3 linked regions of the Homo sapiens genome follow. The protein of the gene in region 1 purifies or fractionates together with the protein of each later gene. This does not show direct contact. Each region holds a gene or a part of one and is shown on either strand. Other genes may lie near its edges.

Region 1 (7,688 bases):
TGTCAGCATAACACCAACAGTCGACTTCCTGCGTGTGCTGTTATTTAGATTCCATCCTTCTCTTCACCTCCACTGTTCTGTACAAGACACTCAGCTAGTGGTAGGCCACATTTCCTTTTTTATGGCAACAGGGTCCTACTCTGTCACCCAGGTTGGAGTACAGTGGCACGATCCCCATTCATTGCAGCTTCTACCGTCCCAGGCTCAAGTGATCTCCCACCTCAGCCTCCCGAGTAACTGTAGCCGGGACCACAGGCACACGCCACCATACCCAGCCAATTTTTTTTTTGAGACGGAGTTTCGGTCTTGTTGCCCAGGCCAGAGTGCAATGGCACGATCTCAGCTCACTGCAATCTCCGCTTCCCAGGTTCAAAGAATCTCCTGCCCCAGCCTCCCAAGTAGCTGAGATTACAGGTGTGTGCCACCACACCCAGCTAATGTTGTATTTTCAGTAGAGACGGGGTTTCACCCTGTTGGTCAGGCTGGTCTCGAACTCCTGGCTTCAAGTGAGCCACCTGCTTACGCCTCCCAAAGTGCTGGGATTACAGGCATGAGCCACTGCGCCTGGACTAATTTTTTATTTTTTGTAGAGACAGAGTTTCTCTGTGTTGCCTAGGCTGGTCTCAAACTCCTGGTCTGAAGAGATCCTCAGGCCTCAGCCTCCCAAAGTGCTGGGACTACAGGCATAAGCCATCATGTCCCACTGCATTTCCAATTATTAACAATTATTTTCACTTACAATAAATGAATTGGATGGTGCCAATCTCCATTTTCTAGACCTTACATTCTCTTTCAGCTACTGCTCAGCTTTCTCCATCTCTCCTTTCTTCTTGAGGCAGTCTTCTATTTTGTACATTATACATTCCTGAAAATTTGAAAGACAAATATATGAAAACTATTAGATTTGCATATTATAAGGGGCTGGGCGCAGTGGCTCATGGCTGTAATCCCAGCACTTTGGGAGGCCAAGTGGGTGGACTGCTTGAGGCCAGGAGTTTGAGACCAGCCTGGCCAACATGGTGAAACCCCGTCTCTACTAAAAATACAAAAATTAGCTGGGTATGGTGGTGTGTGCCTGTAGTCCCAGCTACTCGGGAGGCTGAGGCAGGAGAATGGCGTGAAGCCGGGAGACAGAGCTTGCAGTGAGCCGAGACTGCGCCACTGCACTCCAGCCTGGGTGACAGAGTGAGATTCCGTCTCAAAAAAATAAATAATAGAAAAAAATAAATAAAATAGCATGCAAGAATGTACTAACCAGGAACCATGGCTTGTGTCTATAATCCCAGCTATGGGGAGGCTGAGGCAGAAGGATCACTTGAACCCAGGAATTTGAGGCTATGATTGTGCCACTGCACTCCAAGTGGGTGACAGAGCAAGACCTTGTCTCTTAAAATATATAAAATTAAAAGAAAAAAAAACTAAATAAAGAATGTTCTAGGTACCTAGATTCACATGGATGAAAGTTCCCATTTGGTAGTGCTACTATATGTTTCTTGGTCCCCTATGTCCCAGAGGAACCAAGGGCTAGATAGATGGTACATGGGCCTAAAGAGGATATGCCTGCTTTCCTCAGTAGCAGGCAAGCTCTAGGCCTCAGGACTATAGTGCTCCTTGAGGCCTTGGAGATGGGTAAAAACATCAGTTATCTTGCCTGGATCAGCACTCATACAGACACAAATACCCACCCACAAATAAATGTCCTTTTCTCCCAAGCTTTTCTCCCAGCAGGTAACAGCGGGCATGTAGTCCACTTTGTGTTACCCTGAAATCGTCATTAGTCACCGAAAGCCAAATACTACTTCTGTAAGATCGCCAGGACCCTACATTTGCCATCTTCACTTCCTCACCTCTTGATGCTCACTCTTCCACTCACTAAAAACGGTCTTCCACTCTCTGAAAAAATCACCCATAATCTTCTAATTGCAGAATCAAGATGATGCTGTTCTTTCTCTGACACTACTGACCAATTGTCTTTTATTTCCTTTGCCATTATGACACCAGTTGTCCTCCTACAACTCTGATCACTTCCAGAAATCATCCTCAACTCTTCCCTTTCCGTTACCGTCCCCCCCACAATACAATGAATCACCATATCCTGTTGATTCTACACATTTTCATGCTCCATCCTCTCTTCTCCATCCCCACGGCCACTGTCTTGTAACATTGCTCTCCTGGGTACCTGGGTAAGGGACACAGGTTTTGTGTTTTTTTTTTTTTTTTTCAGATGGAGTCTTGCCCTGTCGCCCAGGCTGGAATGCAATGGTGCGATCTCGGCTCACTGCAAACTCCACCTCCCGGGTTCAATGGATTATCCTGCCTCAGCCTCCTGAGTAGCTGGGATTACAGGCACCCACCGTCATGCCTGGCTAATTTTTGTATTTTTGTAGAGACGGGGTTTTGCCATGTTGGCCAGGCTGGTCCTGAACTCCTGACCTCAGGTGATCCGCCCTCCTCAGTCTCCCAAAGTGCTGGGATTACAGGCGTGAGCCACTGCGCCTGACCTTTTTTTTTTTTAAGACTAAATATTTTATTTTATATAGAATTTTAAAAATTTATTTTTTGTACATGAATAAGTTCTTTAGTGGTGATTTATGAGATTTTGATGCAGCCATCACCCAAGCAGTGTATACTGTACCCAATGTGTAGTATTTTTTTTTTTTTTTGAGACGGAGTCTTGCTCTGTCGCCCAGGCTGGAGTGCAGTGGCATGATCTAGGCTCACTGCAACCTCTGCCTCCCGGGTTCACGCCATTCTCCTGCCTCAGCCTCCCGGGTAGCTGGGACTACAGGCGCCTGCCACCACGCCCGGCTATTTTTTTGTATTATTTTAGTAGAGACGGGGTTTCATCGTGTTATCCAGGATGGTCTCGATCTCCTGACCTCGTGATCCGCCCGCCTCGGCCTCCTAAAGTGCTGGGATTACGGGCGTGAGCCACCGCGCCCGGCCTCCATTGTATCATTCTCATGCCTTTGCATCACAGGTTTCTTCTTTTTTTTTTGTAGACGGAGTCTTGCTCTGTCGCCCAGGCTGGAGCGCAGTGGCATGATCTCGGCTCACTGCAACCTCCACCTACCGGGGTCAAGTAATTCTCCTGCCTCAGCCTCCTACCGGGTTCAAGTGATTCTCCTGCTTCAGTCTCCCGAGTAGCTGGGACTACAGGCGCGCGCCACCACGCCCCGCTAATTTTTGTATTTTTCATAGAGGCATGGTTTCACCATGTTGGCCGGGATGGCCTCGATCTCTTGACTCGTGATCCGCCCACCTCGGCCTCCCAAAGTGCTGGGATTACAGGCGTGAGCCACCGCACCCTGTCTAATTTTTGTATTTTTAGTAGAAATGGGGTTTCACCACTATGGTCAGGCTGGTCTCAAACTCCTGACCTCGTGATCTGCCCACTTTGGTCTCCCAAAGTGTTGGGACTACAGGCGTGAGCCACCGAGCCTGGCCACAGGTTTATTCTTTTTGTCGTCATTGTTGCTGTTTTGAGACAGAGTCTTGCTCTGTCGCCCAGGCTGGAGTGCAGTGGTGTGATCTCGGCTCACTGCAACCTCCGTCTCCCGGGTTCAAGTGATTCTCCTGCCTCAGCCTCCCGAGTAGCTGGGATTACAGGCGTGCACCACCACACCCAGCTAATTTTTGTATTTTTAATAGAGACGGGGTTTCGCCATGTTGGCCAGGCTGGTCTCGAACCTCTGACCTCAGGTGATCCTCCTGCCTCAGCCTCCCAAAGTGTTGGGATTACAGGCGTGAGACACCGTGCCTGCCTGGTTTACATTCTCTCTTAATCCTTTGTTTATACACATCTGTGATTCACCAGACTGCGAACTCTTTGTGGGCATAAACTGAGTCTTACCCATTAGAACACGGACTTGAGCAGGGTGGCAAGTAAGGGATGGATTTCCTGAGACAGTCAACAATGAAGTTGCTTTTCCACTGCGTTCCCAACTGCTCAAATCTAGCTGGTTCCCCAATCCCAGTACACTTGCAGTAGCAACGGGGACCCTCTTCCTAAAGTTGCACCAAGCCAGGGATTCTCCACTCATTTCGCCCAGGTCCTAGCCCTGCCAGGCTTCCCCTTTGCTCCTCTGCAACCCCTGTCTAGGGAGGCGGGTGTCTTGGAAGGTCCTTGGGAGCTCCCTCCATCAATTTTGCATCTGCAATTAGGGCTACTTTACCCCAGTGAAGAAAGGTGCCCTCCGTATTAGGGCTTCCTTCCTCCAATTCCGACTGGACAGGGTAGCAGAGCGGGCAAAGTGTGAGAGCCTTTAGAAGGAAAGAGCAGGGCTCCAAGCGCCGCGAAGAATGGCCGAGGCCGACGCACAGCAGACGCTGGAGTGCAGCCCTCCTAGCCAAGCTTGGGTTTCCCCTTATCCCCGCCTCCTTCTCTAAGCTCGACCCACTTTAGGGCGGGACCACCCACTTCAGCCAATTCTGGAAGCCGAACCCTGGCGGTTTGTACTATTTCTTTCCAATAAGAAAAAAAGGAAGCAGCTTGGCTCCAATGACCAATCCGAGGAGGCGGCGCCTGGTTGTCAGGCAGTTTTGTAGGAGTTCGGGCCAATTGGAGGCGCAGGCACCGCTCGACCCGGGCGCAGCGCGCAGGCGGTGGCGAAGAGACGCCGAGCGGGCCGAGTGCGGCCGAGCAAAGCCGGAGCCGGAGCGGGGCCGCAGGAGACGGGCCGGGTCCGGACGGGCCGAGATGCCCTATAAACTGAAAAAGGAGAAGGTGAGCGTGGCCCTTTTTCCCCCACCGCCGCCTTGGAGCCTGCGCGGAGCTCTGGGAGGGGCCGGAGCCAGGCCCGGGACAGCCCCAGACTGACCCTCCCGTCCAGCCCCCGCAGGACTCCTGGGGCCAGCCCTCCGCCCCCGCGGCTGGCAGCACCCCCAGCTTGTGCCGCAGCTAGGACAGCTCCCCCACCTTGCCCCGGAGAGACTCCCCCCACATACACCTCCCTCCCTTCTTCCCTTCTCTTACCCCCGGCCCAGGGTAACCTCCTTCTTCCAGATCTGCCCCATTCCCAGGTCACTGTCCTGCTTTTTCTGTCCCCCCCATCACCCCTGGCCCCGATCCCCCTTCGGTTTGGGCAGCCCCTCATCTGAAACTGCACCTTCCTCCAGAATTGCCCCCTCGCCCCGCCCTGAGCAGCCCCTTGTCTCCTCTTCCTACCCGCCTGGGACAGCCGCCCCGCAGTCCCCTACGGCCCCTTCTCTTTCCATGCCAAGCCCCTGACCTAGAACAGCGCTGCTTTCTCTCTCCTCCACCCAAATCTGGCCTAGGCCCCTCCCTCTAGTTCTTCCTTCACACACAAACTTGTAAGCAGGACTGAGCCCTTCTGTTGATGGAACCTCACAACGTTGGTGCTGGAAGGGACCTCTGAGCGCATGCAGTGCAATCCCTAATGGTACAGATGAGGAGACTGAGGCCCCGACAGGGCAAGGGACTTGTCCAAGGTCACACAGCCTGCTGGAGGCCCAGCTGCAATATCAGGTCTCCTGACTTAAAGGCCTCTTTTGTATCAAAGCCCTCCTAACTGTCACCCAAGTGCATCCTAGACCAGTCACCTTTCCTAATCTGAGTAGGCTCCTCACCCTTATTCTTAATCCTAGGATAACCTTTGCATTTTTCCTTTTTTTTTTTCTTTTCGCACCAGTGCTGGATTTCTGCCTTTCCTAAGCTACACCATCTTCAAATTGGGAATTTGTCCTCACTGTCAGATTATTGTTCCTTCTTAGCCTGCAGGCCAGCCACCCCTGAACACCCATGTCTTTATCATGATGTCCTGACACAGGCCATTTCTTTTTTTTTTTTTTTTTTTGAGATGGAATTTTGCTCTTGTTGCCCAGGCTGGAGTGCAATGGCGCGATCTCGGCTCACCACAACCTCTGCCTTCTAGCTTCAAGCGATTCTCCTGCCTCAGCCTCCCAAGTAGCTGGAATTACAGGCATGCGCCACCACATCCGGCTAATTTTGTATTTTTAGTAGAGACGGGGTTTCTCCATGTTGATCAGGCTGGTCTTGAACTCCTGACCTCAGGTGATCTGACCCCCTCGGCCTCCCAAAGTGCTGGGATTACAGGTGTGAGCCACCGTGCCTGGCCCACAGGCCAGTTCTTAATGTTGCCTTCTTTCACCTTCCTCATCTACCTCGGTGCTGCCTTCCCCTGCTCCTCATCCGTGCCTTTTTCTACCCTCTGTTTCCTGCTGTTGCTGAGGTCTGACTCAGAGGTGTGGTTCCTTTGAGGTACAGACTCACACATAGGATGCTAGGATACCAGTTCCAGCCTCCCCCAGCTTCTCCTCTCCTGGGGCTGGCCCTTTTTGGTGGGGGTTGGCTCTGGCCTGGTGTTCTGGCCACCTGCTCGATGACCCCAGAGGTATATTGCTTTCATTTGCCCTCTGATTGGCTGGGTTACTGGGCTGCCATCTCTGACCTTTTCAATCAAACTTTTTCTCCTGGGGCTGTTCTGTATTTGCCAGGCAGCTCTGATTCTGAGTTGTCCCCTTAACCTTTCAGGGCCTGAGGTTCTAAGTACAGGGTTGGTGATGGTGTACTAGATAGTGAGCCTCCTGGGAGTAGTGAGCTGGACAGGGTTTTGTGCCCCACCCAGGCCCTGTCCTTGGGGAGTGGGCATGCGGAGGTGGTTTGGGTAGCTCAGTCGTAGACAATGCACACAGAAATCAGCCACAACAGGGGCTAAGGGAAATGGAATTCGGGGAAAGCTGGTGAGGTCCCCACCCATTTGTAATTTTTAGTCTGTTGGACTAGATACTGTCCCATCCACAGAAAGCAATAGCCTACTAGATTGTGAAGAAGACAAATTGCCAGTGAGATTTGCTAGGACCATGGGTGTAAACGTTTGGTTGGGAAAGGGTGTTGGAAGTAACGGGGTGCATGGAGCCAGGCATAACTCTCACCTCCCTATAAGGTTTTTCTGCTCTTGATTTTCAGTTGCATTTGGCCTTCTTCAATGGTTGGCAGGCTCTAAGGGGCAGGGGGGTTGCCAGTGTGACTGAGGTTTGTCTGGATGGCTGTGGGTGGAGGATCTTTATTGCTCATCTATGACCTGTCCCCTCTCTCCTGGCCATCTTTCACAGCTTCCTCTCTAAAGCCTTTCTGAGCCCTCAGTCAGGAGTGAACTCTCCTTTCTTTTCTGGATTTGCAGAACACTTAGTAGGCCACTTATGGTCCTTTTGTGTTTGGCCTTGGATGGGAATTAATTGTGGACAAGACTTTTCTTCCCCTTTGAGATAATAACTAAGTTTCATTTTGGTTTGACAACTCCTTTTCACACGGTAAGTACGTGCTTAGTGGATAGGTGCTAAGATAATCTCTTGGAGGGATTCGCATCTCTCCTCTTCCTTCATGTTCTCCTCTGGGACTTACCTCTTTTATTTTCCTGAGTAGGGTGCCCCTGCCCCCTCCGATTTTTTTCTTGTTCATAATAATAGTAATAACATTGACCAGCACTACGGTTTTCATGTGCCTTAACACTGTGCTGAGGGAAGAGGGTATTATGATTGTCATCATCTAATAGATGAGGAAACTGAGGCTCAGAGAGGCTAGTTAACTTGCCTGTGATTACACAGCCAGTAAGAGTTGGGCCCAAAACACAGGGCTGAGTCCAAACATGTTCTTTTAACCTCTGTGCTACACAGCATTTGACTACTGAGCTGGGCTGAAATGTGTG
Region 2 (7,670 bases), on another chromosome or scaffold:
AGAAATGAGTATTATCACACTTTTCCAACCCATTGGCAACTCCATCAATGGGGGTAGAGAACAAAGATGAATGAATTTCACTAACAAATTCATGCTTTGTGGGTAAGGACAAATATTCAAAGAAAAAAAAATGGGCTAGGAGTGGTGGCTCACTCCCGCAATCCCTGCACTTTGGGAGGCCAAGGCGGGAGGATCACTTGAGCCCGAGAGTTCGAGACCAGCCTGGGCAACACGGTGAGACCCCATAAAAAAAATAAAAAAATTATCCCGGTGTGGTGACACATGCCTGTGGTCCCAGCTACTTGAGAGGCTGAAGTGGGAGGGTCCCTTATGCCCCAGAAGTTGAGGTTGCAGTGAGCGGTGATTGCCCCACTGCACTCCAGCCTGACTGACACACCAAGACTGCGTCCCCCCCCCGCCCCCAAAAAAGGCTAGTAAGATACAAGAGATAATCTTAAATATACCTGTGAAGTCCTAGGAACTGTTAGTCTGATTTATTTAGGAGCCGAAGTAAAAATAATCTCTTTTGACAAATACAGAAAGCTTCCTCAAGTGATCGTTGACACTCCGGTGTGATTATTTCAAAGTACAGCAGTGGTACAATATTCTTCTCTAGAAGTTCATCTTAAAATTATTAGAAAGTCAATAGGGGCTGTGCACGAGGCTCGCGCCTGTAATCCCAGCACTTTGGAAGGCTGAGGGATCACTTCAGGCCAGGAGTTCTAGACCAGCCTGGCCAGCATGGCAAAACCCCATCTCTACTAGAAATACAAAAATTAGCAGTGCATGGCTGCATGCACCTGTAATCCCAGTTACTCGGGAGGCTGAGGCAGGAGGATCCCTCGAACCCCGGAGGTGGAGGTTGCAGTGAACAGAGACGGCACCACTGCGCTCCAGTCTGGGCGACAGACTGAGCCTCTGTCTCAAAACAAAAATAAAACAAAAAAAGGAAGTCAATGGGAAAAACTGATTCAACTAACACTTTACCCATAACTTCAAGTCTGTATTCTGATGCTCATAGTCAGGTTAACTGACTCAGATCATTTCAAACCTGTACATTTCACTTCGCATTAGAGCTGGAGAGAGATGTTTAAGGCATAAATTTTAAGACTCATGAAATTACAGGTTATCACAATAAAAATGAATGTCAACTGAAGCCACAAGTAAGCAGTTTGTTTCAGAAAGAGAAAAATACCACTTGCTTGGCACTTCTATTTACAAAAATAAATCCTCCTGTGTTAACAAATAGTTACTTAATACACAAAGGCCCCGACCAACATTACACCCGTTAAAAATATTGTAACTTAACACCATCTATTAGTGCTCCTTTTCTAAGTAAATTTCATGATCTTAAGAGTACCCTAAAATCAGACTAACAAAATCTTTCCTTCTCCAGTGCACTTCTGCCACATCATGACTTCTAAACATTACGGTTAAGAAAATTTTATAGATTACGTTTTAAAATAACATCGTTACTTCTTCATGCACTTCAAGTGAGAATTTTTAACCTAAAAATACATGAAAATTATTTAGTCCACCTTGTAAAGGATGAATGTGGACAACTCTAGACTTCAAAGATGGAGAGATCGAAATAATTTCAGGGGTTAAGAAAACAATGGATACAGAATTTACAAAGTGAAGATCACACACTCACGATGTACAAGAACGAACTGATCACCCGCATGTTTTATTATTCTTTGGAAAAAAACTTTATATATATTAAAAACAAAAATAACTTTCTGCAAAGTGCTATCGTGCATGAAAACACACATCCCACTTATCATTTCCAGCAAACACTGTTCCCAAACTTAAGATCGGCTCTCGTTTCTGAAAATCAACACTTTACTTCCAAGAGCCACTCAACACAAAGACCAGTCACCATCTGTTTCCACCAAAGTCAACCTCTATTTTAAAAATCACAGTTGGCCATCACGCCTACCTCTCCGCAAACAAACGCTTGGCACATTCAAGAATCAGCGATTTTTTTTTTTTTTTTTTTGCTGTCGCCCAGGCTGGAGTGCAGTGGCGCGATCTCGACTCACTGCAACCAGCCTCCACCTCCTGGGCTCAAGCGATCCTCCCGCCTCAGCCTCCCGAATAGCTGGGATTACAGGCACCCGCCGTCACACCCTGCTAATTAAAAAAAATTTTTTGTGTGTGGAGACGGGGCCTCACTATGTTGCCCAGGCTGGTCTCTAACTCCTGGGCTCAAGCAATCCTCCCGCTTCAGCCTCCCGAGTAGCTGTGGCCACAGGCGTGAGCCACCACGCCCGGCTTGAGTTAGTGATTTCTGAGGTGCCCCGTTCACCTGACAAAAATTCTGCATTTATTAACAAGTTCATTAATACGCACGACATTCTGGTTAATTTTAGTTGCATTTTCAGAAACTGGTCTGAAAATGGTCCTTTTCGGACGTCGCTCTCGCTAGTCCACTCGGGAAATGCTAGAGTGGCAGGAACTCCCCAGTGGAGCGCAGGCGACCCCGACCAACCTCCTGCTTGGCTCAGGGGGCTACGTTTCCCCGCCCGTCCGCACCCGAGCCCCCCACGCCCGGGATCTGGGCAGCCGGCCGGGGGCGTGAGGCGGAGGTGGAAGGGGCAGGCGAGGGCAGCCCAACGCCCCGGGCCCTGAACCGATGGGCCGGCCGCCTAGGTGGACGCCGGAGCCGGACCCACAGCCCCGCAGGCCCCCGGTGGGCCGCGCCGGGCCAGGGGCGGACGGGACCGGGGCGGGCAGGAAAGCGGCGGCCCGTCCCAGCCCCGCGCTCCCGCACTCGCCCCCGCGGCGCCCTCACCTTCTCGCACAGCGTCCGCACTTGGTTCTCGTTCAGCTGCTTACACTCGTTCAGCTGCTCGACCCACTGGTCCAGCTCCTTGGTGAACGCCTTGTCGTCCATGGCGGCCCGATCCCGATGCGGATCCCGAGCCCCAGCCCGGCCGCCGCCCTCCCCCCTCCCCACCCGCCCCCGGCCCCGGCCCGGGCGCCGCTCCCCTCTCCCTCCGCCGCCGTCGCCAGGTCCCACAGGGGGAGGACTGAGCCGGGTAGGGCGGCCGCGGGCCCCGCGCCCCGCCCAAGCCCAGCAGGCGGCTCCGAGCGCGCAGCCTGGAGGAGACCCCCGCCCGCCCTTCCCCGCCCGGCCGCGCGCCGCGGGAGTCGGTGAAGGACGCGGTGAGGTGCCGGGGAGCGCGGCGCGGGTCCTCGGCCTAGCTCTCGCCGGACGAAGGCCGCCCGCTGCCGCTTCAGGCCCGCCTCACGCCTACCGGCCTCTCCCGACTTGTCTTTCCCCTTCTCTCGCTCTTTCTCTCCCCTCCCTCCGGGTTTCCGTCATCGCTCGGGCATTTCCGCCGGGAAAAGGCGAGCAGGCGGCGCCGCCGGGACACGGCGCCCTAGGAGCAGAACAGCGCCCTCGCGTGGCTTGGCGGAGAAACGGTCCGAGGAGGCCAGGGTCCCTCTTTTCCCCACCCTGCCCCAGACCAAGCTCTGCTGGTTCTCCCTTTAAATATCCTGATCTCTGGGAACTTTGTCCTCACTTTAGCTTCCTGCAGTACTTTGCAGCGCTCTGGACAGGGAGTTGGAAAACTTGGGCTTCCCTTAACATTGTCTCCCCAGAGTCTAGCACTCAATAGCAGGCATTCAATATTGATGGAGTAAATTAATTATTTCCAGCCTCACCTGTAGCCCCTAACATCTCGAATCCTCCCTTTCGACATTAGAAAAGTGAAATGATTGTTCTGTAGGATAATCTGTGGCCCTTCCAGCTCCAGAGCTCTTGGCTATATTTTCTGCAATGTGTACTGAGTTGTAATGATTTGTTCATTCAACAAATATTTATTGAGAGACAGAACAGGGACCCCTCTTAGGGGCCATCTAGGCACCCCCCTCCCCAAGCATGGAAATAAAGGAAAATCTTGAGTTCCCTGAAGGGACATTCCAGGCACCTAACTTCCTCAATAAGTCAATGAGCAACCTGATAAGCAAGAAGGTAATAATAGCTTAAGACAGTAGCCAAGGACGTTAGATTCACAAAATGTTTGCTTCCCTATAGAAACTAAAGACGACATATGTCCCTGAGTTGTTTTTCAGAAACCTGGACCTCACCAAATGGAAAATGGTGTCCACTGGCATGGAGATCTCAAACTACCTATCTTTGTTCTAAATTTCTTCCTGAGGAGCCTGGAAGAATTCACAAAGCTTTGCCTCCTTAACCAATTGCAAATCAGAAAATCTTTGAATCCATCTATGACCTGTGGGTCCCTGCTTCAGATATCCTGGCTTTTTAGATCAAACCCACGTATAGCCTCCATGTATTGATTTATGACTTTGCCTGTAACCTCTGCCTCCCTGCCTTTAAAAATCCTTACCTGGGCTGGGCGCAGTGGCTCATGCCTGTAATCCCAGCACTTTGGGAGGCCGAGGCCAGGAGTTGGAGACCAGCCTGCCAACATGGTGAAACCCCTTCTCTACTAAAAATACAAAAACTAGCTGGGCATGGTGGTGGGCGCCTGTAATCCCGGCTACTTGGGAGGCTGAGGCAGATGAATCACTTGAAATCGGGAGGTGGAGGTTGCAGTGAGCCGAAATCTCGCCATTGCACTCCAGCATGGGTGACAAGAGTGAAACTCTGTTTCAAAAAAAAAAAAAAAAGCACACAAAAAACCCCTTACCTGTAAACCATCAGGGAGTTGGGGTCTTAAGCATGAGCTGCCTGATTCTTCTTGCTTGGTGCAATGCAATAAATGCCTCACTTTCACTACAAACCCCAATGTCAGTGTTTGGCTTTGCCGTACTTGAGGGAGGACCTAAATTCAGTTAGGTAACATGAGCAGCTGCTAGCTGCCAGATACCTTGAATAGCATGTGCTAAATGATCATACTGTGTCTATTAAAGGTACATACTACTGCGGCTGAACCCAAGTGGAAGGTAACATCCTGTATCAGAAAGCAAGGGTTCTTGTGTTTGCTAACCCCCTAGCTATGTCCTTGGGCAATCATCAAACCTCCGTAAGCCTCAAATTCTTCATCTGTTAAAATCAATAAAAGGCCTACCTTTGTGAAGATTAAGTTTTAAAAGTGCCTGCCCAATAGTACGGTATGGGAGCGATATGTTAGTTGCCTTACCCCTCCTAGGGAACAATTACAGAAAGCTTTAGAAAAGCGGTAATTGAACTGAATTTTCAACCTTCTCTCAAGGCAAAAGCTTGAAGTTGCCTGGAGAAGAGGAAAGAAGGTCTAAGGAATTTTTTTGTGCGTGTGCCAGTAGACAAATGAGTGAAAGACCATTCATTGTCTGTTTGGAAAGCTATAAATTCTCCTAGCAACAGAAATAGATTATATTGTTGGAAATAAGGCTGGAAGAGCTCCTGCTCTCAACAGCTTGTAAATAGCAGCAAACCAGTTGAACAAAACACAAAAGGTGATGAAACAATACTGGTGAGATATCATTGCAATAGATATTACATTCTCTGAGGAGGTTAGTCTATAAGGCTTTAAAGGAGGCTGGGCCAGGTGCAGTGGCTCACACCTGTAATCCTAGCCCTTAGGAGGCTGAGGTGGGAGGATCACTTGAGCTCAGGAGTTCAAGACCAGCCTGGGCAATATGGTGAAACCCTGTCTCTACGGAAAATTAGCCGGGCATGGTGGCGCATGCCTGTAGTCCCAGCTACTCAGGAGGCTGAGGTGGGAGGATCATTTGAGCCCAGGAGGCGGAAGTTGCAGTGAGCCAAGATTGCACCACCGTAACTCCAGCCTGGGCAACAAGTGAGATCCTGTCTCAATACATACATAAAAAAGGAAGCTGATTTTCGGCTAAGCTTGGAAAGCTCGGAACAAAAGTGAGAATGAGAATATGTTCAGGGTTCCTAGAGAAGATGGACTGAAAACAAAATATACCCTGAGGGCAAGTGGGAACTGTGGATGGTAGTTAGGGAGGGAGGTCCTTGAAATAGAAGCAAATGTGTTTGAAATGAATGTGAGAGAATATTCTTAGAGGTGAGTAGGTGTTTGTGAAAATAGTACTTCTAAGAAGTTTAGTCAAGTAGTGATGTAGAACAAAGAAGAATACTTTCTTTGAGTAGTTCCTATATACTAATGTTTTTACATGTAGCTTCTCATTTAATGCTCCAGTAACCTCATGAGGCTGGTGTTATTATACTTTCCATATTACAGATGAAAAGAAAGACAGGTAGAGGTTTAAATACATGTTCAAGTCACACAGATAGTACTGGTGGGGTACAGATTAACACTCACATATGAGTTCTACTCCATGCTTTATGTTCTATGGTCCCTGCAGTGTGGATGGGAACATGGAAAGCCCAAGAATGGTAGATTGGCCAAGGGGCTTGATGACTTACAATATCAGTTTTTGCTATTTTGGTTGTGACGGTCTCTTAATTATAAATAAGAACAATAATTCTTTTTTTTTTTTTTTTTTGAGATAGGGTCTCACTCTGCCACCCAGACTGGAGCACAGTGGTACGATCTTGGCTCACTGCAACCTCCACCTCCCAGGCTCAAGCGATTCTCCTGCCTCAGCCTCCCAAGTAGCTGGGATTACAGGTGCATGCCACTACCACCCGGCTAATTTTTGTATTTTTAGTAAAGACAGGGTTTCAACATGTGGGCCAGTCTGGAAGAACAATAATTCTTAAACTTATTTCTTTTTTGCTTTCTGCTTCTGTCAGACGTGTGTGTTTGTGTGTGTGTCTGTGTGTGTGTGTTCTCCTTCAGAACATAACCATCAACCTCCAATCCTTGCTAAATTACTTGTCATGCCAAACTGCATTTAATCTTAGGTTTATAGGCCAGATCTAATTTTCTTTTTTGACCTAGAGGTTTTCTTATTGTTATTCTGTTTACCTCTCTCCTTTTGGTTAAATAATTAAAAAGAAATCTTCCACAGATTATTTGCCTTAAAAGTACATGTGAGATTTTCTTCCTACTTAATTGACTAGGCTCTTTTAAAATATATAAACATTGATATTTTTCCTAATGTATTATATACCATTTAAAATATGAAATATGAATCATTTATATCTTGTAATGTATCCACATAATTATATGCTACAATTATACATTGTATGGGTCTAAAAATGATTCTCCTATATCACTGTAATCCTCAAATGATTAAAGAAATACTTTCATTTCCAGTTCAAATACCTTCTGATACTTAGAATGTGAATATGATATTATCAAAATTGTCACAGGGAATTCTGCATAAGAATATCTATTGATAATGATTACAAAAATTAAAATTAATATAGAAAAAATCAAATTGGAAATGCTTTCTTTGCATTTAAAAACAACAAATCATGATCAATAAAAAGATCATAGTTCTCATCCTCTATTCTCACCCTTCTGCCCAAAAACGTAGTTCTAAAAAACCTTTTCAAATTTATCAAACAAGAGATGGAATTATTGAAAGGCAAAGGAATCAGAGCAGATGCTATGTTGAACATTTTGTCCTTTGCTGACCTCAGTAAAAGGGTTGGTTCAAATTTCTTACTACAACACTACAAAAGTGGATTCCTCTATATCTTTAAACATTTTTATACTCAGATATTCTATGTTGTGTATCTGACAATTTTTAAGTGACGGAAGACGTTTTTCTTGTTTCCACTGACTCTTACTCATAGTGGTTTGTCTTCTAGTATATATGAGTTGGCAGCTTGAACA
Region 3 (7,685 bases), on another chromosome or scaffold:
ACCTAGGAGGTGGAGGTTGCAGTGAGCCAAGATCAGGCCACTGGCACTCCAGCCTGGGCAACAACAGCAAAACTCTGTCTCAAAAAAAAAAAAAAAGAAAAAAAGAAACCAAAGCTTACAGAAAAGCGGGAGGGTCAAGGTCACCAAGCTGGAGAGTGGCTAAATTGGAACCCAGAAGCCCAATTTCCTGAGAATTTATGCCAGCCCCTTCCACAGACCCTGAGTGAAAACCTGAAGCCCAGGGAGGTCACATGCAGGGCCCGTGCTCTCTGCAAAGCCCCCCTCAGTGCCAGCGCAACCCCAGTGTGGCCTGGGAATCAGGCCCAGATTCCAGCCCCAGTTCTGCCACTTGCAGCACTTCCCCAGCCCTATCAGGACCTGCCTGCAGTAACGGCTACCAGCGCAGCAGGCCCTGTGCCCGGATACCCGGACTCTCAACTGCATGTCATTATCACTTCAAAAAATCAGAAAGTGACTTGACGAGGGTCATATTGCTTCTAGGTGACAAGGCAAAGATTCATACTGAAGACCACCTGATTCAAAAGCTCAGCTCTCCTACTGTGCTAATATTTCTAGTAGCAGCAATTTCAGCTCAGACACTGCGGACCTCTGTGCTTCCACTGGTTTCATCTGCATGTCTGTGCCCTCTAGGCAAGCTGGTGCTCTTGACACCACCAGCCTCAGCCTGGGTCTCTGATGGGTCCCCAGGAGGCCATAACCAGGTATCAGAGATGGCCCTGCTTCAGACTGAGCCTGGGACAACAGCGGCCAACTCAGGCCTTGGCCTAGTACCTCCTAGTTCCACTCAGTTTCAACTGGGCAGGACCCTCCACCCCTCAGCCTTCCATGGCTTCCTGCTGCCTCACACCCCACATCAAAATCTAAATGCCTCTGCCTGGCTCTCAGTGACCACGGAGCACAGTCAAAGACCTGGATGCAAAACTAACTTCCCCTCCGACTAGCTGCGTGATGTTGGGCAAGACATTATCTACTCAAAGGCTCAGTTTCCTCTGCTATGAAATGGGGCTAAGTACTCAGCCCACCCTGCGTATTCCTTAGGCTGTTGCAAGGAGCCATGGAGACTGAATATACGACTTCCTGCTATTCTGCAAACTCCAGCATGCTATCTAAGCTTTGTCTACCATCACCACCACACTGATCCAGGGCCCGTGAGGGAGACAATACTTCGAGGTTAAAGAATAGTGCCAGGCAACAACAGGTTTAAGTTCCTAAAAATGCCAATCAGGACTGAGGGAAAGGGGACAACTAAAAACACCATGGGGCTGGTCTGGTCAGCTGGCAAAAGAGAAAAGCCACAGACAGGTGGCGAAAAAGAGGCCGACCCTGCTCATCATCCCCTCACAGGCCCTGTCTGGCTGCAGGTAGTCTATGTGAGGCAGGGCCAGGCAAAGAGCCTGAGGGCCACAGATTCAGGACCCAGCTCTGCCACGTCCTCAGTGGGTGACCTCAGTTAAGTCACCAGACCTCTACGAGTCATGGCTTCCTATTCGATAAAATGCAGCAAATGATTCCAACCTCATAGGATTGCTGGGGGGAAGAGATGGATAGAAGTTTTTTGCCAGTACCGGGCCAGGCCAAATAGTGGCCCTGTAAAGGCCAATGTTTACTGTTCAATAAACGTAGGGTAATTCTGTGGGCTCTTCTGCCACAATTCTCCAGCCTGGTAGAAGCCACAATCACACAGTTCCCCAGAGGAGGCAGGTAATTAAACCCCTGACTGTTCCCCACGCATCTCAGGGCCTCCACTGTTACATTCGTCCTGCTTGGAATGCCCTTCCCTCACTGGCCCTGCCTCCATCAGCTAGCCAAATTATCTTCATCCTTCAAGGCCTACCTCCACTCAAAAGCCCTCCCTGATGGCTTTAGCCCATCTCATTATTGCCCTCTTCCAAAAGAAATAGAATACCTGGTGATTATCAAGCACGTATGCTGTACCAAAACACTGTGCTAACCTCATCTCCAGCACCAACTCACTGAATCTTCACAATCATCTTATTAAGTACTATTAATTCTGCTTTACAAATAAAGACACTTAAGATTACTAACACAGCTAGAAAGCGGCAGAGTTCAGATTCAAACCTAGAGCCATCTCACACTGCAAAACCTAGAGCCTTAACCACTACATCATCCTACTTCCCACAGAACTCTGAACTGGCCTCCCTATCGTGCTTAATTCTACCCTGGCTTACTTGCTACGATTTCTCAGGCTCCCACCCTGAACGTGAATGATCCAACTCCACCTTTTTGCATTATGGCCTGAAAAAGGACAGGACACTAAGAGCTGGCTTCAGACCCCATTCCTTACTTGTGGGTAACTTTGAACATGAAAGTTCCCACCTGTAAAATGAGTACAATACCACCAATCTTTAAGGGTTGTTGTAATTAGAAGACTTTTATAAATCACAGGGTCTTTAACTTTCCTGTCTTAAACTTTTGGTTTTTGGCTGACTCTTTTACCACCTCCTTATTCGAGGCCTCTCCCACAGTTCGGCCCCCCTCCAACAAGCTTCCGTCCCCCGACAGATGGACTTGTTTCCTTGAGTTTCCTAAGTACTTTATGTAACACTCTTACTCCACTGGAAACACATCGTCTAATAAACTTTAAGTGTCTTTATCCACTCTGTCTTCCCCGAGCAGGCTAGCTTTTCCTCGAGGGCAGCGGCTCCATCCTGCTCCTCTCTGGGAAAGCTTCCAGAACGAGGCAAGCCCAAAGTTCTCAGTTGGGTTTGCCCCAGGCCAGAACCCGTGGGCGGCGGCTTGGCCTCCCTTCCCCAGGGCCAACGAGCTCACCTGGCCTTAGCGCACAGGGCCTTGACTTCGCTCTCCTTGATGAGCTCGCAGCGACGCAGCTGCTCGATCTGCCGGTCCAGGTCGCTGATCTCCGCCATGGCCCACCCCCGGCGCGGGTCAGAGTCGGGGCCGCCGCCCCCTCCGCACCGCACAGGGGTCTCCTGGGAAAGGCCAAGACGAGCCCGCGGATCAGTGTCCGTCCGGGGCTCGGAGCGGACAACTCGATTCTAGAGCCGGCCCGGCTCCCCCACCCCCGCCTCCCCTCACATCGGCCCCAGGACCCCCCGGCGTCCAACGGCCTGGCCGCACCCCCGCTAACTCCCGTCGAACCCCGCGGTCCCGCGCTAAGGACGGTGACTTAGAGGAGTCTCGCACTATTACCGCCGCTGCGACTCCGGTTCCGGCTCTCCGGCTCCCTGCCTCCCTCTTTCACTCCGCTTTCGACCGCCGCCGCCGCCGCCGCCGCCGCTCCTACTTCCGGCCCCGCCGCGGAAGCAAAGGAGGCCAGTTCCGCCGCGCGCCGGATGTGGCGTCATACACGCTCCTCTCCTTTCGCAGCGACCCCTGCACCACTTCTCCAGCCTGAGATCGGGAAGGAGGTGGAGGAACCCGGTGGCGGCCAGTGGCAGTTTTGTGGGCTCTGCCGCTGGGCGATGTGGAGGCTATTAGAAACCCTAGACCAGTCCCCTCCCATATCATTTCATAAAAATGTTTAAACAACTGTCTTTTCTTTTTTTGAGACGGAGTTTTGCTGTTGCCCAGGCCGGGGTGCAATGGCACGAACTCGGCTCACCGCAACTTCCGCCTCCCGGGTTCCAGCAATTCTCCTGCCTCAGCCTCCTGAGTAGCTGGGATTACAGGCATGCGCTACCACGCTGGGCTAATTTTGTATTTTTAATAGAGACGGGGTTTCTCCATGTTGGTCAGGCTGGTCTCTAACTCCCTACCTCAGGTGATCCGCGCCCCCACCCACCACCACCCTTCGGCCTCCCAAAGTGCTGGGATTACAGGCGTGAGCCACCGCGCCCGGCCACAACTTTCTTTTTTCTAAATTAGAGACAGGGTCTCGCTCTATCGCTCAGGCTGGAGTCGGTGGGGCTATCATAGGTCACTGTGACCTCGAACTCCTGGGCACAAGCTATCTTCCCGCCTCGGGCCTCCCAAAGTGCTGGGATTACAGGCGTGAGCCACCGCGCCCGGCCATCCCCCATTTCAGCTAGGGAAACAAGCCGAGCTGGGGCTAGGCTTTGTAACTTTATTACACTTTTTTTTTTTAACATTACACTTTTTTTTTAATGTTACACATTTTTGTTACTTGTTTTGTCAGCCTTCCCCACCACAGTCCTTGGAGGATCCAACTTTGTCTTTTTAAATATTGCAGCCCCAGTGGTTAGAATAAGGCCTGGCACGGTAGGCATATATAGATACTTGTTAATACTTGTTCAATGGATGAGGGAAGCCAAGTTCAGATCTCTTCCTGTGCCGTCAGAGAAATATTTGCCGTGGACAACTTCAGAAGTTAACAGATTGGAGTCCACTTTTCCCACGCCAAGCCTGTGCCTCAGTCAGCATGACTTCTCTGATTCCAAAATGGCACTCTTGACATTTCTTAGTTGCTTCCGTTTTTCTTTTTGAGACAGAGTCTCACTCTCTCGCTCTGTCGCCCAGGCTGCAGTCCAGTGGCGCCATCTCGGCTCACTGCAAGCTCCGCCTCCCGGGTTCACGCCATTCTCTTGCCTCTGCCTCCTGAATAGCTGGGACTACAGGCGCCCGCCACCAGGCCCGGCTAATTTTTTTGTATTTTTTAGTGGAGACGGGGTTTCACCGTGTTAGCCAGGATGGTCTCGATCTCCTGACCTCATGATCCACCTGCCTCAGCCTCCCAAAGTGCTGTACCACAGGCGTGTACCACCGTGCCCGGCCTCTTTTTTTTTTTTTTTTTTTTTTTTTGAGACGGAGTCTTGCTTTTTCACCCCGACTGGAGTGCAGTGGCACAATCTCGGCTCACTGCAACCTCCGCCTCCCAGGTTCAAGCGATTCTCCTGCCTCAGCCTCCCAAGTAGCTGGGATTACAGGCATGTGCCACGACGCCTGGCTAATTTTTGTATTTTCATTTATTTATTTTTTTAAGACAGAGCCTTCCTTGCTCTTGTCGCCCAGGCGGGAGTGCAGTGGAGCGATTTTGGCAAACCGCAACCTCCGCCTCCTGGGTTCAAGCAATTCTCCTGCCTCAGCCACCTGAGTAGCTGGGATTACAAGCACCCGTCACCACGCCCAGCTAATTTTTGCATTTTTAATAGAGACGGGGTTTCACCATTTTGGTCAGGCTGGTCTCGAACTCCTGACCTCAGGTGATCCACTCTCCTCGGCCTCGGAAAGTGCTGGGATTACCAGCTTGAGCCACCGTGCCTGGCTTCTTAGTTGCTTTCTATTAAGTTTTGTGCCTTTTTTAAGAGGAGGAAACTGGCTCAGAGGGGTTAAATAACTTGTTCATTGCTTGTATAACAGTGGATTGGGGATGTTACACTGAAATTTGAATCCGGGGCTAGGTGTGGTGGCTCAAGCATGTAATCCCAGCACTTTGGGAGGCCGAGGCGAATCACTTAAGCCCAGGAGTTCAAGACCAGGCTGGGCAACAGAGTGAGACCCAGTCTATAAACAAAAAGAATAAGAAACTTGGGCTGGGCGCGGTGGCTGACGCCTGTAATCCCAGCACTTTGGGAGGCTGAGGCGGGCGGATCACGAGATCAGGAGATCGAGACCATCCTGGCTAACATAGTGAAACCCCGTCTCTACTAAAAATACAAAAAAATAGCTGGGCGTGGTGGCGGGCGCCTGTAGTCCCAGCTACTTGGGAGGCTGAGGCAGGAGAATGGCGTGAACCCAGGAGGCAGAGCGTGCAGCGAGCCAAGATTGCGTCACTGGACTCCAGCCTGGGCAACAGAGCGAGACTCTGTCTCAAAAAAAAAAAAGAAAGAAATTTGAACCTGGCTGTGTGTGGTGGCTCACACCTGTAATCCCAGCACTTTGGGCAGCCGAGGCAGGTGGATCACCTGAGGTCAGGAATTCAAGATCAGCCTGACCAACATGGTGAAACCCTGTCTATCCTAAAAAATAAAAAATAATAATAATTAGGTTTGGTGATGCGCTTGTAGTCCCAGCTACCTGGGAGGCTGAGGCAGGAGAATCGCTTGAACCCAGGAGGCGGGGGTTGCAGTGAGCCGAAATTGTGACACCGCACTCCAGCTTGGACAACAGAGTGAAATGCTGTCTCAAAAAAAAAGAAATTTGAACTCAGAAAGTTGTGTCCTCAGGTGTAGTTTTTTTTTCTATCAATTACTCTTTCGGGAACTCAGATTATCATAAAATTAAGAGGTCCAGGCCAGGCATGGTGGCTCACGCCTGTAATCTTAGCACTTTGGGAGGCCAAGGCAGGCGGATTACCTGAGATTGGGGGTTCAAGACCAGCCTGGCCAACATGGTGAAACCCCGTCTCTACTAAAAATACAAAAAATTAGCCGGGTGCAGTAGCGTGCACCTGTAATCCCAGCTACTCTGGAGAGGCTGAGGCAGGATAATCGGTTTGAACCCGGGAGGCAGAGGTTGCAGTGAGCCCAGATCGTGCCACTGCCCTCCGGCCTGGGCTACAGAGCGAGACTTCGTCTCAAAATAAATAAATAAATAAAAGTCCAAATCCCCCAAACTGGTATATGACGTTCTCTGCTTCTCTAGTCTTTTTTATTTTTTTTTTTTTGAGACGGAGTCTCGCTCTGTTGCCCAGGATGGAGTGTGGTGGCACAATCTTGGCTCAGCGCAACCTCCACCTCCTAGATTCAAGCGACTCTTCTTGCCTCAGTCTCCCGAGTAGCTGGGACTACAGGCGCGCGCCACCATGCCCAGCTAATTTTTGTATTATTAGTGGAGACGGGGGTTTCACCACATTGGCTAGGCTGGTCTTGAACTCCTGACCTCGTGATCCGCCGGACTTAGCCTCCCAAAGTGCTAGGATTACAGTTGTGAGCCACCGTGCCCGGCTGAAACTATTGATCTTTAAACAATCTCTCCAGTCTCTGAGACTCTGCACATGTTCCCTTTTGGAATGCCCCCTTTGCCATCTTCTACCGACCTTCAATTTTTATTTGCTTTACTTCAGTGTTTGTTTCCCAGAGTTGAATGAGCTAGGCAGACAAATTAATCCAAAGTTTAGAGGGATAATAGTGATTGGTTTTGTTTTAGATGTAAGCAATAAAAGCAAAATAAGCAGAAAAGGGAAGGACCAAGTTTTATTTTTATTTTTTGGGACGGAGTCTGGCTCTGTTGCCTAGGCTGGAGTGCAGTGGCACAATCTCGGCTCACCATTACCTCTGCCTCCTGGGTTCAAGCAATTCTCCTGCCTCCGCCTCCCAAGTAGTTGAAACTACAGGTGTGCGCCACTATGCCCGGCTAATTTTTGTATTTTTAGTAGACACAAGGTTTCACTATGTTGTCCAGGCTGGTCTCAAACTCCTGACCTCATGATCCGCCCACCTTGGTCTCCCAAAATGATGGGATTATAGGCGTCAGCCACCGCACCCGGCCTAGGACCAAGTTTTTATACTCCTAGAAGGTTCTAGGTAACTCCGTTCTACCTGAATCACTGCAGAGATTCTCTAGGTCCAGAGAGCTGATGTAGTTACTGTACACCCCAGCCTGGGTCATTGGGGAAAGGCTCAAAGTAATGGCATGGCACGCTCATTCTAGCTTCATGGAAAGCAGCAGCTACAGAGACACAGTTCTTCACCTGGAGCCTGAGCTCTACAGCTTAACTTCTGTATCTGCATTACCAAGGGGGTATTGGAAACAATTCAAGGTTTTTATGGGATTCCACAGCCCAA

What was found.
Region 2: the proteins of PPP2R5D (region 1) and PPP2CB purify together in Homo sapiens (affinity purification with mass spectrometry; 10 studies listed by BioGRID and IntAct, with this or other methods). This does not show direct contact.
Region 3: the proteins of PPP2R5D (region 1) and PPP4C purify together in Homo sapiens (affinity purification with mass spectrometry; 7 studies listed by BioGRID and IntAct, with this or other methods). This does not show direct contact.

What each region holds. Positions count from the first base shown.
Region 1 is NC_000006.12:42,979,979-42,987,666, forward strand, and holds the start of PPP2R5D (serine/threonine-protein phosphatase 2A 56 kDa regulatory subunit delta isoform), read left to right. Parts: upstream 1-4,591; 5' UTR 4,592-4,699; coding exon 4,700-4,726; intron 4,727-7,688. UniProt on the Homo sapiens protein: The B regulatory subunit might modulate substrate selectivity and catalytic activity, and might also direct the localization of the catalytic enzyme to a particular subcellular compartment.
Region 2 is NC_000008.11:30,809,526-30,817,195, forward strand, and holds the start of PPP2CB (serine/threonine-protein phosphatase 2A catalytic subunit beta isoform), read right to left. Parts: upstream 3,294-7,670; 5' UTR 2,897-3,293; coding exon 2,795-2,896; intron 1-2,794.
Region 3 is NC_000016.10:30,071,602-30,079,286, reverse strand, and holds the start of PPP4C (serine/threonine-protein phosphatase 4 catalytic subunit), read right to left. Parts: upstream 3,294-7,685; 5' UTR 3,193-3,293; exon of another isoform or gene 3,187-3,192; intron 2,973-3,186; 5' UTR 2,910-2,972; coding exon 2,812-2,909; intron 1-2,811. UniProt on the Homo sapiens protein: Protein phosphatase that is involved in many processes such as microtubule organization at centrosomes, maturation of spliceosomal snRNPs, apoptosis, DNA repair, tumor necrosis factor (TNF)-alpha signaling, activation of c-Jun N-terminal kinase MAPK8, regulation of histone acetylation, DNA damage checkpoint signaling, NF-kappa-B activation and cell migration.